Linked DNA regions of Homo sapiens: region 2 is linked to region 1. Evidence: fine-mapped expression QTL. Tissue or cell type: cerebellum. Region 1 holds a variant in brackets; the other region holds the start of a gene. All regions are shown on one strand. Distances are between the middles of the regions.

What was found. PIP is the estimated chance that this variant, and not a neighbour inherited with it, causes the effect.
Region 2: SLC22A14 starts here. The variant in region 1 is fine-mapped to the expression of SLC22A14 in cerebellum (GTEx, PIP 0.95).

Annotation. Positions count from the first base shown.
Region 1 is chr3:38,209,739-38,212,423 of GRCh38, forward strand. The region is part of intron 4 of OXSR1 (oxidative stress responsive kinase 1); the gene reads left to right. Among named protein-coding and RNA genes, the nearest start is that of OXSR1, 46 kb to the left of the region's middle. RefSeq lists a silencer at 593-702. The variant G/A (reference allele first, on the strand shown) is at 1,177.
Region 2 is chr3:38,280,639-38,283,323 of GRCh38, forward strand. It overlaps SLC22A14 (solute carrier family 22 member 14), which reads left to right and starts at 1,656. Exons shown (of 11, transcript NM_001320033.2): 1 at 1,656-1,701.

The sequences.
Region 1 (2,685 bases):
TCAGCCTCCCGAGTAGCTGGGACTACAGGCGCCTGCCACTACGCCTGGCTAATTTTTTGTATTTTTGGTAGAGACGGGGTTTCACCCGTTAGCCAGGATGGTCTCAATCTCCTGACCTCGTGATCCACCCGCCTCAGCCTCCCAAAGTGCTGGGATTACAGGCGTGAGCCACCGTGCCCCGGCCAAGAAGTTCTTTTAACATTTCTTGCAAGGCAGGTCTGCTCACTGCAAAGTCCCTCAGTTTTTATTTGTCTGAGAGAAGTACTTCTTTACTTTTGAAGGATAATTTTGCTGGATACAGGATTCTAGGTTGGTTTTTTTTTTTTCCTCTTGACACTTTAAACAGTTCACTCCACTCTGCTTGATTGCATGGTTTCTGAGATGTGGGATGTTAATTCATACCTTTGTTCCTCTATAGGTAAGGTGTTCTTTTTCCTCTGACATCTATCAATATTTTTGTCTCCCTTACCCAGCTCAGTCTTTTTAGTGAGCCTGTGCTCCTGGGCTATCAACTGCACAAGTGCTTCTCAGTTCCCCCCCAAGGTGAGACAGGAAGGCTTGATGGGACTGAGACTGGGTATTTCCCTTCCCGTAGATGGGTTAGGTTCTGGTAAAACCAAGGTGGTTAAGCTCTGATAAAATAGTTTCCCTTGAGGGTAGGTTTTTGTTTAGGAGAATAGAATGCTTAGGGCATATTTCAAATTGGTTACTTTTTTCTTCCTCCTGTGGGAAATTAGGGGAATTTTCTCCTGTCTATACCCCGAGAATCTCATGGGGCTGTAGGAGGTAAAGCTCATCCAGCTCATCCAAGTGTATGAGTCTCCCTTAGACTGGGTCTGCTTGGGGTTTTTAACTCTCAAGCTGTTCCACACTGAGCCTCCAGACATTTGTCAACTACAATTTAAGTTTTTATACCCCAGTACTGACTCCAGCAATAGTCTTCTGCTGCTGGGCATCTGCTCCATTAAACTGTAATTCTATCTTCCTGTCTACATTTTTGGAGGCAGGTGTTTGCCCTGTGACCTCAGTCTCTGATGGATCTAAGAAGAGTTGTTGATTTTCAGACTTTTTTCCTGTTGTGAAGACAGAAGTGACAAGCTCATTACATATTGAACTGGATAAGATTAAATCTTAAAATTCTTTTACCTTCTGATGTCCAAAGCTTTTCCTGTATAG[G/A]TGATCTCTTGATGTCCTGTTTATTAACAAGATAGTGGCCCTGATTTGCACTATTATTACATCTTTGCCAGCAGGGGTAGTTGATAGATGCAACAAAATTCAAAGGCCTGCTTGCCAAATAAACTTTCATGGGACTATTTGGGCAGATTCACAATGTTTAGTCCCTTTGACAGTTGAGGAAAAACTGCTGTCTCTTTGACCCTCTGCTACCCTCACCACACCACCAAAAAGGAGGCCTAGCACTATTTGGGCTCGTTGGGCATTAGACAGTATGTACCTCACTTGGGCATTCTGTCTGGTCCTTCATATCAGCTAACCTGCAAATCAGCATCCTTTGAGCGGGACTCTAAGTATCAGGTTGCATTGGAACCTGTCCAGCTCTCTGTGGCACGGTCCCAGGAACCCCTATAACCCTAATGACTCCTTTGAACACTGTGATAGATGTTATAGGTACATACAGGTTCAGGATTGTTATTTTCCTGGTGAATTATTCCTTTTGTTCCTATAAAATGACTTTTTTACTCCTATAAAGTGACCTTTTTACTCCTAGAAATGTTTTTGTTTTAAAGATAGATCTTATTTGTTGTAAAGACAATTAGGTCTTAAATGTTTTATAAAGATAATTAAGATCTTATTTTAATATAGCTATCCTGTCTAACCTTTGGTAAGCATATCTTTCATTGTGGCCTAGTCTTTCAAGGGTCTTGGTTTTATTTAGGGAGTTTTAGTTTTAGCTCCTAACCTTATATCAGCCCAGTGCCATGTTTTCTATTACCTGTGGATTTGAAAACCTGAGCCCCCTAGCCATTTGGCCAGTTTCCCTCTTCTGTCTCCCAGGTCTTCTTACCTACTGCTCTGCCTCTTAAGTGTCTCTTTCATTTCTGAACCTTGAGAATTTTTTCCTTACTTTGCATCTAGCTGTGTGGTATTTTCCCCCTAATTTATCCAGCATCTCTTTGTGTTTGTAGCAAGGGAAGGGTGTGTTTTGGGTCAAGGGCCTGTATAGTAGTGATGAAAGTTTGTTTTCCAACGCAGCATTCGCCATTTAGCTGGAATGGGAATTCTCTGACACTTTAAATCGTAGACTTTCAGCCTGGGCTGCATATTGGAATATGGGAAGCTTTAAGAAGTTTTGATACCTGGGTCCACTGTCAGAAATTTATTTAATTGGTTTGGAATGAGGCCTTGGCATTGGGACTTTTAAAAGTTCCCTGGGTAATTCTAATATGCAGCCAAGTCTGAGACTATTACTTAGACTTTAGCAGTAACCAGCTCTGTAATACACTGAGACCTAGGCTTAGGAGAAAGTTGTTTCATTGGGAAGCAGAGGCAGATATTTTTAGGATGTCTTGCTACTTCTCGTATCTTCAAAGTCCATTTGTGATTTCAAGTGGATTTGTATGTCAGCCTAGTGGATTAGGTAAAGTAATTTTCCTCTGTCTCTACTGTGTTTCCTCTTTGACTTCTAGGATTTAGAGGTTTTGAGTAGGATGAATGGGTCTCTAAATC
Region 2 (2,685 bases), 71 kb after region 1:
TTTTTTTTGAAAAGGAGTCTCAGTTTGTCACCCAGGCTGGAGTGCAGTGGTGCAATTCTCTGCTCACCGCAACTTCTGCCTCCTGGGTTCAAGCGATTCTCTTGCCTCAGCTTCCCGAGTAACTGGGATTACAGGTGTGCGCCACTGCGCCAGGCTAATTTTTGTATTTTTAGTAGAGACAGGGTTTTGCCATGTTGGCCAGGCTGGTCTTGAACTCCTGACCTCAGGTGATCCGTCTGCCTCAGCCTCCCAAAGTGCTGGGATTACAGGCGTGAGCCACCATGCCCAGCCGAGTTCTGGGATCTTATGTAACCAAAACAAACCAAAACAAAGGGGTGCTCCCACCCTGCTCTTCAGTCTCACTGATGGCTTCTGGGTGCTCACTGTGCTGTCTGCTTGGTCCCTTTGACCCCCAGAGTGCTGCTGCTCAAGAGTGGGGAACTCTAGGGGGGATGAGGGGCCTAGGACCAACCACTGAGGTGACCTGCAGACACCCCGAGGGAGGTCTGGTGAAAGAGGAAGGATCTGATGCCCCAGATACCAATAAGATTGCAGTGCCCTGCCCCCAAACAAGTGAAGATTGAGCCATAGGAAACTGCAAAAGAGCTGTAAGTAGGTTTCCCTGTGATCAATACTTCATTTTTTTTCAAATATATGAAATTCTTTTAATTTTTTTTTGTGTCTTAAGTGTCTGTGTTAGTCCATTTTCTGTTGCTTATAACAGACTGCTTGAAACTGAGTTATTTATAAAGAAAAGAAATTTATTTCTTACAGTTCTGGAGGCTGGGAAGTCCAAGGTTTAGGGAATACATCTGGTAAGGGCCTTCTTGCTGTTGGGAACTCTGCAGTCTCCCAAGGGGGCACAGGTGAGGGAACCGAGCAAGCTAGCTTGTCTTTCTTCCTCTTGTTATAAAGTCACCAGTCCCATTCTCATAACTCATTAACCCATTAATCTACTAATCCATGATTGGTGATTCATGGATTAACAGATTACACTCATGACCCAATTACATCTTAAAGGCCCCATCACGCTACCACACTGGAGATGAAGTTTCAACATGAGTTTTGGAGAGGACAAATATTAAGCCATAGCAATGCTCTAATTTTGTTGAGGTCCTAAGTACATGCTGTACTGGTACAAGGATGGTCTGCCTTGTACTAGGCCCTGTGCTGGTTTTCCTGTCCTGCCACTTTGGCCTCCCTTCCCCCAAGCATGAAGCTTGAAGCCCTGTTCCTGCAATCTGGCAGAGGAGGCTTCTAGCTTATGGGGGAGATGGGTCAGACCCCGGCAGCTCTGACCAAGGCTGGTTGGCAGGGGAGTGTCACGGAGAGACAGAGCAGAAGTGAGTGGGGTAGGGCCAAGCCATTTCCAGCTGTGGGCTCAGGAAGGCTTGAAGGATAGTTGATAAATGAGTGATATCTGGAAGGACAGGAGAATTTCCGAGAGTGGAGGTGGAGCCCTCGTGTGGAGGAAACAGCCTGCACAAAGACAGGGGCAGGGGGGTTCGTGTGGCAGTTTTCCTGACCTGCCTTGCCCCTGGAGGCTACAGCCAGTTGTGTCCCTGGAGTAGAATGCTGACCCTCACCATTCCCAGCTCACCCCAAGGACCTCCCCACCCCATTGTGACACTACTTCCTGGACACCAGTGGAGCTCAAAGGTTCTGCTTCCAAGGGTCTGGCTGGGCCTGGATTGTGGTCAGGTGGGCCCTGGCTTTGGCTTGCGGTCCTGCCTACAGGGAGGCAGGGCCGGGAGGGTGTGGAGAGTAGAAATTATGATGACCCCTGGCAATTTTGCGGCCGCGTTCTCAGCACAGGTGTGGACAGGAGCCTGCCTGGGCCTGTTTGGCTGTGGGGAATCTGTGGAAGGAGCGGGCTGCCCTCCCAGAAAGCGTGAGTTCTCAGGTGTGGCGTCTGGCCATCTCCTGCGGCAGGTGGAGTGCTCCTCCTGGCTATGCTTCTCCCAGGCCTCAGTTACCTCTTTGGCACATTGAGAGCCAATTGCCTGGGGCCTGTCCACCTGGCAGAGGACCTTTGGGATGAGTAGAGGGAGTGAGTGCTCCAGGGTATTGGGGTATCAGGTGGTGCTGGGGGATGCTGAAGCGGTCCCTGCAGAGGGAGGCTGGTACAGATGGCTCTGGTCCAGAAGCCACATCTCTGAGAGGACAGCGGAGGCTCTCCCTCCCTGGAAAGTCTCCTTTATCCACCTCCACCCTCTCCAGCCTTACACACATACATCCTGTATTGGTTTCCTATTGCTGCTATAACAAATGCCCACACTTAGTGGCTTGAAACAGCAGAGACTTATTACCTTATGGTTTTGGAGGTCAGAAGAACAAATGGGCCTCAGCAGGCTAAGATCAAGGTCTCAGAAGGATTGCCTTCCTTTCTGGAGGCTCTAGGGCAGAGCTCATTTCCTTCCTTGCCTTTTCCAGCTTCTAGAGCCTCCTGCATTCCTTGGCTCTGGGACCCCTTGCATCTTCAAAGCCACCGACGGCTGCCCAAATCTTTATCACGCTGCATTTCTTTGGGTCTTATGCATTTAAGGATCCTGGGATTAATGGGACCTACCTGACAATCCAGGATAATCTATTTTAAAGTCAGCTAAGTAGTAACCTTAACTTCATCTGTAACTTTAACCCCCCTTGCCATGTAAGGAAACATATTTACGAGTTCTGAGGATTAGG